Regions from separate parts of the Homo sapiens genome. Here regions 2, 3 and 4 are each reported to be linked to region 1. The links are microRNA targets in miRTarBase. Many come from high-throughput screens and were not tested one by one. Region 1 holds a microRNA gene; each other region holds the end of a gene's coding sequence.

Region 1 (3,216 bases):
AAATTGCCTAACTAGGAAAAGTCTGGGTTTTAATAGCACCTTAAAGTAGACTGTGATTTCTGGTCTGTCTTATTGGAAAAGGATATGTCAGAGTATGGTTTTCTGAGGTTGATGCTCTTCTTCTCTTTCTTAAGAGCCCTAGGAAGGGTAGCTGGCTCATTGAGCTATCTGCCTATTATAAGAGCAGTCTGTGACTCATGAAATCTCAGGAGATTTTGTAAAGCAGTTCACTGTGGGCCAGGTAAATGTTTTATTCCCAGAGGCGGGCTCTTGGTTCAGCATTAAGAAGGTAGCAGATTTCACTATTGGGTAGCAGAATTAGTGTAGTACCTATAGATTTAAGTTACGAATATTGATTTATTTTCACTAAGAGTACACATTAATTCTTTTTTGTTTTTTGGAAATGGGGTCTTGCTCTGTCACCCAAGCTGGAGTGCTGGAGTGCAGTGGCACAATCATAGCTTTCTGCAACTTCAGCCTTCTGGGTTCAAGGGATCCTTCCACCTCAGCCTCCTGAGTAGCTGCGACTACAGGCATGTGCTACCATGCCTGGCTAATTTGTAAAAACTTTTTTGTAAAGATGGGGTCTTGCTATGTTGCTCAGGCTGGTCTTGAACTCCTGGGCTCAAGTGATCCTCCTGCCTCAGCCTCTCAAAGTGCTGGGATTGCAGAGTGAGCCTCCATGCCTGACCCCTGTTAGTCATTTTTTTGGGTAACTTTACAGGGATCTCCGTGATGTTATGGTAATTGAGAAAGACACACAGGTTTTGTTGTTTGTTCTTGTTGGTTGTGTAAGATTTCTACCCTCTTTAATACTGAGAGGACTTGAAGCTGACCCAACACTTACCTAGAATTAGACTGTTCATTAAGGCACTTAAAATCTATTTTGTGTGAGTACAGAGAGCATCTGAATGGGTACAGTTGTTGTCTCTTGTTCCTCACACAGGCACCAGAGCAATGGAGCTGTCATTGCCCGCTGTGGACAGCCAGAGGTTAGCTGGTGGGGCTGGCGAAATGCAGATGATGAGCATCTGGTACAGTCAGTAGCCAAAGCTTGTGCCTCTGACTCCCGATCGAGTGGCAGCAAGCTGTCAACTAGGAACACTTCTCGAGACTTTCCCAATGGGGGAGACCTTTCTGACGTGGAGTTCGGTAAGGTGCTCCCTGGACCCATGGCAATGATTTTTATAGCATCTAAGAACCTTTTCTTGAAATGGCCTCTTCCTTACAAGACATAGATTTACTTTTATAGAAGTGAATGTGCAGAGCTTCACTTGATGGGATTGATTGAGGAGTCATGGGTCTTGGCAGAGAATCAGAAGACCCTTTGTTTCAAACCTGAATCAAGATATTAGTGTGTTTGTTGTCTTTCTTGCCATTGTGACAAAAATGGAGTGTTTATGTAATAGAGGACTTGCAGTATCTGCAGACCATGGCAGGAAATGCCAGGCTTCATGAAAGGACAACAGATACAGAAATGAAGTATAAGAGACTGGGCTGTGTGAACCCCATGTGTACTCTGGGAGTCAGTTTTGGAGAATAAATCCTTCTCATCTTTCATAAGAAGGCCACATAGAAAAAAAGAGAAAAATCCTATGTATCAAGGGTTTTGGTTAGGGGATTTCATTTTATTGAGCCTTTTTTGTGCCATAAGATGTGCTTGTGGGTCTAATTCTGCACAGTTCTGGGAGAGACAGGCTCATTTAGTATGCCCTCTCCCTCTGTGTCCCTAGATTCTTCTCTGTCAAATGCTTCAGGAGCAGAGAGTTTAGCCATCCAACCGCAGAAGCTTTTGATCTTGGATGCACGCTCCTATGCAGCTGCTGTGGCAAACCGAGCCAAAGGAGGAGGCTGCGAATGCCCAGGTGAGGTGTATGGTGCTTTGTTCCCCATACTTTCTCCTTGTGAGTGTAGCCCTTGCCCAACTGAGACTTAGTTCCCAATTTGAAATAAGTGGCAAGCCATATTCCTCATCCATCCTGTCGTGAGAGTGCCAGAGCTTCTCTTTGGATTCTTAACACTGTATGTTCTTTTCTGAGGAGAAATGGAGGAGGAGGTGCAGTGAAGTCACATAATCTTCCTTCCTTGTGCCAACTTGTAGGTGATAAGGAAAGCAGATCTTCCCCATAATAAGACCTGTTCATGTTTGGAAGCTGCTGCTTTAGTGGGCTCAATTTCTCAGCCGTCTAAAAGCTTTTTGTTGCCTTTGACAGAGGGTATGCTCACCACTGGCCTTGTAGCAAACTCCTCAAGGGCCTCTCCTTAGAAAACCTGGGGTGAAAATTGAAGCAGTAAATACAGAACCCTAGTAAGGTATCTCTGTCCTGAGCTGTAACACCATTACTGTTGGAATGCTAGCTTTCCCCAAGGAGGGACCCCCCTCAGTGCCTATGGCACAGGCAGAGGCACCAGGCTCTTTGTTCAGATGTGGTCTAAGCTGGAAATTGAAAGCAGCTGTACCAAGGTGAAATTTGAATGTGTGAACGCATTGTTCTGTGGAGTTCTTTTCAAAGAGATTTCAAAGCCACAAGTTAGATAAGGCCCAAGAAGTAAAGCCAGAGTGAGATCGAAGTAGGCCTTTCTTTTAAAAAATAATAGCTTTTATTTTATGTCAGTATCTTCTTTACAAATCTAACCTTCCCTTTTCACGCTTTTTGAAAAGATAGCTAAAATTCAGTGTGTTCCTCTTATTATAAAGGATTGGGCTAATAGTTAAGCATTTCAAAACATTTCAGTTTCGTTAATCAGAAGCTGCAGTGGGTTTGTTTTATAGCCAGTTTGCTTTTAAATTTGGCCATGTGGGCTTTAAGTTCAACGTATTTGTGTTCTCTTTATTGTTACTCTCTCCAGAGTATTACCCAAACTGTGAAGTTGTGTTTATGGGGATGGCAAACATTCATTCTATTCGGAGGAGTTTTCAGTCTCTGCGGTTGCTGTGCACTCAGATGCCAGATCCGGGAAAGTAAGTCCTTGGCCTTGGCTTTCATTTTGCATTGCTCTTAAATAATAAGTTTGCTTCTTTCCTTGAACTAAGGGGGAAAAAAAGAAAAAAAAATTAATTTGGAGCAGTCTTTCCTTCTGTTTCTTGGTAATCTTCAGTTACCAGACCAGTCTCTGCAAGTATCTCCTTGCTGGGTCTGAAATGTGGCAGCACAGAGGAAGAGTTGGGAGAAAATACAGCCATTTGAAAGGTTTTAAAATCTGCAGCACAGAAGA
Region 2 (3,000 bases), not on the chromosome of region 1:
AGCAGAGGCTCCATCTGATCCAGGCACTTCCTTTGGTTAATGAGAAACCAAATAAACAGCCTCTGCCCCAGCTGGCTCCAGGAGCACCCCAGCCAGGCCCAGCCCTACACTAGCCCAACCTTCCTTCCCTCCGCCTGCAGGCCCTGTGGCTTTCCGCCCCCTTTCTTCTCCACCAGCTCCCCACTTCCCTCATAGCCCGGGTGGCACCTTGGCTAATTCTCTGGGGCTTCCTACTCTGGATCACTCTCTCTCTCCTTCTTCTTCCTCTTTCCTCTGCTGCCTTCTACCCCATTTTTAGCTGCTGGATCTCACTTGTCCTCTTCCCCTGACATCTGTCTTAGCCGTCTCCACAGGGAGTCCCCCCACAAGACCAGCAGGCGGCTCCAGGCTGGAGCAGGAAGGCTCCAGGCCCTGCCAGTCTGCCTCTCCGCTGTGGGATGGAGGCCAAACCCTCTTCAGGGCCCTCACCACACTCTTTGACTTGAGCAAGTTACTCATCAGCCTGTGGGAGGTAGACCGGGTGCTCAAGGCTGCTCTAGCTTGAGGGTATCGACTGCTGGCCAGAAGCCCCCAACTATGCCATGGTGGTGGCTGTGGTGTGGCCCAGCTCAGAAGCAAGATTCTTCTGGCTGAGAGGTGAACTGGGCAGCCTGAAGCAGGCCCAATACCCAGTAGGCTGCAGCTGAAGTTCAGATCTTGGGAAGTTATTTCTATCCACCTCCAGGCGTCCTGAGGCAGGGCAGGGCTGGGCCTGCCAGCAGGTCCCAGATCTAGCCCCAGCTAGGTGGTGGCAGTACTTTGTGGACACACCCAGGTCCCCATGGGAACATCCCCTCCTCCATTAACCCTCTCTAACTGGGCCTGTGCCAGACTGGGCAGATGCCCGTGGCCTATGCCACAGAGGTGACAGGATGAACAGGGGAAATGGTCTCAGGCTCCATGACAGCAGAACAAGAGAGCAGAAAAACCTGGGGTGAGGGGAGTGGCAGGAGGGTCATAGGGCATTAAAACATCTTGCTCCACTAGGATAGCCATCATCTGCCCGTACCTGCCCCAGTCACCAGTGGTTTGAGCACAGGAAAGCGCACACACACACACCCCCACCACACACGCACGCACACAACTCTCACTCTCCATTTCCCAACATCACGACACCATTTTACACCCATTTCTCCATGTGGTTAATTTTTTTTTTTTAGTTCTCATTTTTTTCTAAGAAAAAAGCAACAAGAAAATAATTCAGAGTTTATACAAAACATCTTTACATTATTTTTTTTCCAAAAAGACTAGTATTTACACAAATGGCAACAGAAACAAAAACAAAAACCCTTCCGACTGCCACCTGGAAGGGGCTGGCTGTTCTGCTCCCTCTCCCACCTGGCACTGGGGTGGGCAGCTGGCCAGGAGGCAGTGTGGAGGTGGATGGTGTGAGGGCCAGCTCCTTCCATGGCTGCTCTGGGAGTGCCTGCAAGGCGCACTCAAGTGGCAGTCTGTTAGCAGCCGTGCTGGCAAGGAACTGGGGTCAAAGTGCACAGCGGGCTGGCCCAGCCCCAGGCAGCCTCTTCCTCTTTCCAGGCCCCAGCCCAAGACTGGGACAGCAGCAGGAGCTGGGTTGGGTGGGGGTTACCCACCTGTGCTAGGGCCCAGAAAAGGAGCAGGCCACCTGGTCTTATACCCGCTTAGGTCTCCACCCTGGGCCTCTGTTTCCCCACCAGGCCAAAGGATGCCAAAGGTAAGGAGAGAACAGGGTGGGGGGTGGGGGTGAAACTCCCAGCTCTGCAGGGCAAATAGCCACCTGGGCACCTCACCTCCCTCCACCCCCCATGAGGTCATCTGCCTGCAGCAGCTCTCCTGTTCCCCAGGCAACAGCCAATTAAGACATTAATTACCGTGAGAGTGAGGGAGGCAGGAGATGCCCAAGAATCCCACAAGGAAGGGATTTTTTTTTGTGTGTGTGTGTGTGTGTGTGTGTGTGGAAGGGTGGCAGTGACTACCCCATTGCCAGGATAAGCCTCGTAGGAGGGTCAGGAGGGGAGGGTGGGACACCTTGCCCAGTGGCACTTTCCTCTTCCCTCATGGGCGTGAACAGCCCTGGCCTGCCCCTTACCCCACCAGAAATACCAAGGAATCTATAAAAGAAATGGCATCCTATGCTTCCTGGCTGACCACATCGTGCCCCAGGCCCTCTTGTACTGGCTTGGGCCAGGCTCACAAAGCCTGGGGAGGGGCTGCCTTTTACATTTTTCCATTTTTCTTCAAAAAACAGATGAAAATGAGTTGACAGCTAAAAAATGAACACAAAAGCATTAAAAACAGTGATGATAGCGGACAAGCAGTCCTGGGAAGGTGGCAAGGGGGGCGAGGGAGGGGCAGGGCCAGGGGACTGTCTCCCTGCCTGCTGTCCATCAGTGTCCAGCCCTGCCTTCCAAGAAGGGGCGCCCCCACGGAGCCCAGAGGCCTGGCCAGAGGGGGAAGGCACAAGAGCATGGGGGTTAGGGGCACAAGCACCCCCCTCCGAAGCCCAGGGGGCAGGGAAAAAGGGGGATTATAAAAGCCAAGAAACTACAAAACTAAATACAAAGGTGGGCACAGCTGGCAAGGGGAGGGGGTGTGGGGGCGAAAGGAGAGGTCCGGTCCAGGCCGACTGTCCCTCGGGGGCCTGAGGCCGTGCCGGGCACTCAGACCTTGTAGTAGATGTTCGCCGGGCTCTGGGGCGGCATCTCTTGGACGATGTAGACAGGGTGCCCGTAGTCCCCACTCACCTTCTCATAGTGGGGGCAGTAGTTGTTCTCTGTAGTCCGTAAGGGAATGATGATGTCGCTGGGCTCGGTGCCCGCTGTGCCACTGCCCCCCTTGGGACTGGCCAGGGTACTGAGCGAGAGGGCAGCCGCCCGCTGCTGTGTGTGCTTGCGGTGCCGCTTGCGTAGCTTCAGTAGTAGGACCGTCAGGAAGATGATGATGAGCAGGAAGATGACGCAACCGGCACCGACAGCCGCGAAC
Region 3 (3,212 bases), not on the chromosome of region 1:
GTTGGGAAAGAAAGAAAAGGTTGGGCACATATATGCTAATGTATAAGATAGCCTATAAATTCATATGCTATGGAATCAAATATTTCAATGATTGACATACAAATAATTCTTTTTAAGAAAATGATATAAACTGCATACATGAAAATCCCATATTTTCTAATGTGGCTATTTTAAAATACTTCAGAATATGCACATTGGAATTCCAATTTGTGTGTTTAGTAGTTAATGTATATGCACACATTTTTAATTTCTTGCCATTAATAATTTTGTGGTTGGTTTAATTTAAAATATTCTGGTTGGACACAGGGCTTATTGAGGCAAATATTATCTCAGGATGCTAACTGCAATGTAATTTTTCAGTTTTAAAAGGTCTATAAGAGTTCGAAGGAGGAGACACATTCCTTTAAACATATTGGATTCAGCCACATGCACCTTGTCACTGTTGCCTTGTGAGTGAAAGCTGTTAAAGTATTTTCTTAGTGCAGTAAGACAGTGACAAATATAATAGGAAAGGAAAACTATGCCTAAGGAAAGTGTAATACTTTTGAGATAGATTTCTAATGTACCAACGTCCTTGTTGACAATATTGTCTCATGTTTGGTATTTTCACTTTCTAAGTTTCTGATTTAACAAAGACACATTTATAATATTCTCAAATATGGAAAGAAGTGATGTCTGTGAATTTCTTTTGGAAGTAAGCATGTTTGCATTCATTATATTTCTGTTTGCTCCTGGCAGAATTCACTTAAGCAATGTTGGGAAACTTTTGAAATAAGATGTGGAAAGTATAGAAAAACGTATTCAGGTATTTCAGAGACACATCGAGATGATGTAGTTTATAATTACCTCAAACTCTCCTGCTAATTCTCAAGGAATACAAATGACATATCTTGCTCTAATCTTTAGAACAAGAATATGTTTCCATGGTTTTGTTAAATACACACCAAATGAAGAAGCATATGTTTAATTTTCAGGTGCACAGTCCTCAACGTGGGTACTTACAGAGTAACAAATTCTTTTGGTTGTGTCATTTGCACATAATGCCAAACATGATATTATTTCCTTATAGTGTTGTTTTAAGTTACTTATAAAGGAGGGGAACTTGGTCTTTTACTAGCAAAAACTGCTTAACATTTACTATTTTTTAAAATGTTATTTTAAAAAATTACAATTGTATAAGCTGATGTACAATAACATTGTAAAGGTTTTAGTTTTAAATGGTAGTTTTTGCTTTTAATTTGAAAGTGGTTGAAGGGTAGAAAATAGCATCTTGTTAAAGAACTGGCTTTTCTATTGTACATCTGAGTTCATTGTTTTCTTAATCTTTAAAGTTTTCTCTGTGAATAATTTGGTGGACTGAGTTTGTGCATCTGACCAATAATTAAAATACCTAAAAAGCATTCCAAAGCTTTTCCAAATAAATTTATGGTAAAAATAGTTAAAAAAATAGCAAAACTGAAAAAGAGTCAGAGTCTGGTTCTGTTTACCAAGAACTCTATCATACATTTGCACCCAATTACACTGCAAAAAACAAGTTACTAATGCTCTGTTTTTGTTGAAGTAATCCCATGGGGTCATTGAAAAATTTTATGTAAAAATTTCATTTAAAATTATTCACATCTTGCGAATGGCTTAGATTTTGAAATCATTAATTCAGAAATAGAAAAAGAGTCCTCACTTTATAGAAATGACTTACTTATATCATTTAAAATTAAAACTTTCCCTACTTATATTTGGAGATAGGAGTTGAGACCCATAAAACATTGATGGGAAAATGGTTTTTATTAAAAAATCTTCCATGAATCCATTTTGTTTTCATTGTATTCATTTTTATCAAAATGTAAATACTTTAATCCCATTGAATTTTAAAGTCACATTCTAAACTAAAATATAAAAGTCTTACTGAATTTTGTCCTGTTATATCAAATTATTAAACACAATCACATACAGTTAAGTAGCTATTAAAAGTCTAACAAAAACAAGGGTGCTGGCTTGAATTGTTCAATGTTTGGCAATAACTAAAAATACATAGCTATAATACTTATTTAAAAACAAAGTTGTTTCCCGTATTTCCACCTTCGTTCCTAGAGATACAAAGTTTAAGAAAAGTAGATTGTGACTGTAACACGATCTCTTGTTATTTGTTTTAAATTTGCACAGAGGAAAACTTAATATTCTAAACAATTAAATTTAGTATTCCAAATCATTAAAGTCTTTTAATGCTCTTATTTAAAAATTTTCAAAATTACATATGTTGTTTAAATAGTATTTATATGTACAATCCTCCATTAATATGAGTGAATTTCCCACTGTAACTAATTATTTTCCCATTTTGTAACTATACTATAAGAAAATAGTTTTAAATCTCAAACTATTGGTTTACTGTGCAAAATTTGCTTTTGTATGATTTAATAGCATTGAATTACAAATCAAGGAATTTCAAAGTAGTTTTCATGTCTACTATTATGAGATATTATATAACATATAAACACATTGGCAGTAAAGCTTCCACTTACATGGTTTACTGTGAAAAAACAAATCACCTGGAATTAATATGAAATAGAATCCCCTAATAAATATTTTATATTCATTAAAAGAATCTCATCTTTCTCATGACTTTGCATAGCTAACCAAAATACAAAGCTTTTCCATATGCCATTTTAATACAATGGTCATCATTTGTATACCACACGCACACATATACACATACACACCTATGGCAGAGACACTTTCTTCTGAATTGACCATTTGCATTTGCATGCCCCCAGAGACTTAATCTTGCTGCTGATGAATATCCTCATGCCTAAGAATTTTATAGATAACCCAGTAGAAAATATTAAAAATCAAAAAAGCTAATGGGAAGCAGGCTCGGGAGATGGTATCAATCTTCTTGGCCCGGTCGATAAAGACCTTCCTCATTTCATCAGGACTTTTTGGCATTACCTGGACAGGGTGGTTGGGGCCCTTTGGAGTCATGCCATCCTTTGCTTGTAGACATGGTCCCATTCCATAGGCTGTGAAGCTGAATCGGCTTTCCCTTACCTCATCATCCTGTCAAAGAAAAATGTGACAAGGCCCTTTAATAATACAATAGAGCATGTATAACAGGCATCTCAGAATCATAACCAATTTTATCATGGTTAATATTTACATTAATATAAGGAAAAGATAACCGAAGCATATAAAGATGAATTGGTTTTTATTCCCTATTG
Region 4 (3,093 bases), not on the chromosome of region 1:
AAGTACCTTAATAGCCTCAACTTAGGCAACTCAAATCCACACTCACTAATCAATCTGGGTTTTATGGTCAATTTGTACAGGCACTAAAACAACAACAAAACACCTTAAACTTTAAAGCAGATGGCCCCTAAATAGTTCTCTCCTTTAGTTTTGTTTGAGTAACCTAGGGATCTGAATATTATTAACCACATCTGGAAGTATGTGTGTATGCACGTATGTATTTTTATGTGTAGGGGTACAGACAAGAAACTGAGTTTCATGTTAAAAACTATATTCCTTATAAGGTAATCTGAAAGAGAATAAGGGGAAAGGGGAATGAATAAACAAGTAATCTGCGTTTTTAAAGCGGCACAATAAAACAGGATTTAAAATAAATTTAATATGATAAATATTAATGGATAGTATAGACTTCTAAGACCCTTTCATCCAATTGCCTTCTAAATCAATGGATAAATAAATCAGACTTTATTCTTATATATGCTGGTATAATCAGCAACTGCAGCATTAAAACAAACCTCTTAAGCTGGGTACAGTGGCACACACCTGTAGTCCCAGCTACTTGGGAGGCTGAGGTGGGAGGAAGGCTTGAGCCCAGGAGTTTGAGTCCAGGCTGGGCAAGATAGCGAGACCCCATCTCTAAAAAAATAAAATAAAATAAAATAAATAAATAAAACAAGCCTTTTAATAGTCTGGATCATATAGAAGATTAATATTATGATGGATTGCACATTAATGTCTCAAAGGACACCCCCCGCCAAAATCACCCTACTAAAAATCACACTGGGTTTCTAATCTTGGGGTTTAGAAATTTTCTTCTTATGCTTTAAAAACTCATTTTACTTCCTTTATCCTCTGATTTTTTGGGAAGACAGAGGGTGCTTCTTCTTGGACTCTTGAGTCCTGGACACTAAATTCCTCCCTCAGTTCTAGTGCCCAGGCTAAGCAGAGACACTAAACCCCTTACTTCCTCTCAGTGTTCTCTTTCAGCTGCCTCAATGCTTCACCTGGCTACATTCATACTTCATTCAGAAGTCTGAACAGGGCCGGGCATGGTGGCTCATGCCTGTAGTCCCAGCACTTTGGGAGGCTGAGGCAGGTGGATCATTTGAGGTCAGGAGTTCAAGACCAGGCTGGCCAACATGTGAAACCCCATCTCTACTAAAAATACAAAAATTAGCCAGGCAGTAGTGGTGCATGCCTGTAATCCCAGCTACTCGGTAGGCTGAGGCAAGAGAATCGCTTGAGCCTGGGAAGTGGAGGTTGCGGTGAGCCGAGATCGCACCACTGCACTCCAGTCTGGGCAAGAGTGAGAACCCGTCTTAAAAAAAAAAAAAAAAAAAAAAAAAGACTGGGGCAGAAAAGAGAGATGACTGACAGGTTATGGGAAGGTTCTGGCCCTTTGGGGTGCCAACACTAGATATGAATCCATTAACACTGACATACAATTGACCAGCTGTTATAGAGCCATTCTTGTATCCCTGAAAGGCTGAAATGGGGGAAAAGAGAGAAACAGACTGGCTAGAATACACAGCTCCTCTAGTGGCATTCCTGTTAAAACAACCTCATAGGTCAGAGATGCCACTGATCACTCCTAGATTTCAGTAAATATATAATAACATTAATCATTAATGTCTGAACTTGGGTGTTGGGGACTTTCAGGCTCTGTTTTGTGATTTATCATTTTCACTCTTTCCTAATAATACATCTCTCTCTTTCCTTATGATACAGTTGGTGGAGTCTGACAGAAGGAAGAATATGTAGGGGGAATATTGGGGATACCATGCGAATTATCACATATCAGAAGATAAAATAGAAACCAAAAGGTAGCATCTGTTTTCATCAAAACAGTTTCTTCTCATAACTTTTCTTGCTTTCATTAGAGTTTCCTTGCAGGTTGGCAAAGATTCAGGCAGGGTCCCCTAATGGTAAAATTTAGAATTAAAAAAATATTTATTGATAATATCTTTTTAAAAAATGTTTGGTAATCCCAACTAATCATTCAAAATGCAAACTGTAAACACGACAACAGCAAAAGGGTAACAATTGAGTGAGTAAGCAGACTGAACAGGTGACAGACTGAGCAAGAGTGTGGGGGGGAGCAACAGAGAATGTAAGACAGGTGCACAAGTGTGCTACAGACAGTGATAATTTGAGTGTGTAAGAATTACATTTGGACCACAGTGATTTCAAGGCAACCATTTAGGAAACCTCTGGGCCAAATACTAAAACACAGGAGGAATGGACGAGCCTTCTTTGTGAGCATGCTCAGCATGTTGGCATGGAAACAAGGAAGCATAGAAGCTCTTTAGTCACAATGAATGTCTACCATTTCTAAGATGCAAAGAAATTTTCTTTCTGGTCCCTGGGTACATCATATATTGTCTTTCCATGCTTTTCTTGACCCCGGAGGACAGCAGATGCTGTTCTAAAATCCCCAAAGAAACCCCTAGACAAAAATTTAAAAACCACAGTAGCATTAACACGGGGTTTGCTGGAATGCCCCTCCCTATCTTGGCCTATGATTTTCTTATGGGCACCTCAACAGGAATGGTTAAATTTTACCAATCTACTTGATAAAAAAGCCATCACAAACTTCAGTCCCATGGTCACAAAGCTAGAGTGGATGGGGGTAAGGGTGTGTATGTGTATGTATGTGTGGCTCTGGGGATCTGGACACTGCCCTCCCTCACTTTGTAACCCTTGCTCAGAACACTGGGGTTGCTTCCACTGGAGAGACTCCACGGTAGCTCTAGAAGTGTCATTAAATACTCAGTTCGCCAAGGTTGACCACCTCCATTGTCATAGGATGATGCAGCATCTGCAGAAGCGCTGTCTGCTGCCCCCTACTGATGGGGGTGGAGTGACAGGTGCGAAGTAGGCGTGGACTTTAATATTGGGTAAATGGGTCTGAAACAAGACAGAAACATTAAACGTTTAAGAGAGGGCTTAAACAGAAAGAGCAATGTTGGTTCTTAGAAAAACTACCGAGGGGCTCAATGAACATAAAAGCAGGGCAAAGGCTGAGCACTGGTCAGGATGTTAGAGGGCCTGGGTTCTACTTTGTTCCATCCTAGGTTGTTCTCAATGACCAGA

The links. The annotated mature microRNA hsa-miR-6818-5p reads UUGUGUGAGUACAGAGAGCAUC and lies in region 1 at 887-908, shown strand. An mRNA with a match to its seed (bases 2 to 7 or 8) in the 3' UTR can be bound and repressed. Matches are read on the target gene's strand: a 7mer-m8 pairs with bases 2 to 8, a 7mer-A1 pairs with bases 2 to 7 and ends in A, and an 8mer does both.
Region 2: miRTarBase lists EFNB1 as a target of hsa-miR-6818-5p. Seed matches in the 3' UTR shown: 7mer-A1 at 1,947-1,953.
Region 3: the mRNA of GLRA3 is a reported target of hsa-miR-6818-5p. Seed matches in the 3' UTR shown: 7mer-A1 at 208-214.
Region 4: miRTarBase lists FBXL20 as a target of hsa-miR-6818-5p. The part of its 3' UTR that is shown has no 7-base or 8-base seed match.

Annotation. Positions count from the first base shown.
Region 1 is chr22:30,006,168-30,009,383 of GRCh38, forward strand. MIR6818 (microRNA 6818) reads left to right here and starts at 882; the gene lies at 882-946. MTMR3 (myotubularin related protein 3) reads left to right here. Exons shown (of 20, transcript NM_021090.4): 10 at 947-1,152; 11 at 1,734-1,865; 12 at 2,851-2,962. It overlaps HORMAD2-AS1 (HORMAD2 and MTMR3 antisense RNA 1), which reads right to left. Exons shown (of 5, transcript NR_110541.2): 5 at 2,579-3,029.
Region 2 is chrX:68,840,333-68,843,332 of GRCh38, reverse strand. It overlaps EFNB1 (ephrin B1), which reads right to left. Exons shown (of 5, transcript NM_004429.5): 5 at 1,173-3,000. The coding sequence ends at 2,679. Among named protein-coding and RNA genes, the nearest start is that of EFNB1, 13 kb to the right of the region's middle.
Region 3 is chr4:174,641,014-174,644,225 of GRCh38, forward strand. It overlaps GLRA3 (glycine receptor alpha 3), which reads right to left. Exons shown (of 10, transcript NM_006529.4): 10 at 1-3,051. The coding sequence ends at 2,773. Among named protein-coding and RNA genes, the nearest start is that of HPGD, 120 kb to the left of the region's middle.
Region 4 is chr17:39,258,661-39,261,753 of GRCh38, forward strand. It overlaps FBXL20 (F-box and leucine rich repeat protein 20), which reads right to left. Exons shown (of 15, transcript NM_032875.3): 15 at 1-2,907. The coding sequence ends at 2,800. Among named protein-coding and RNA genes, the nearest start is that of STAC2, 34 kb to the left of the region's middle.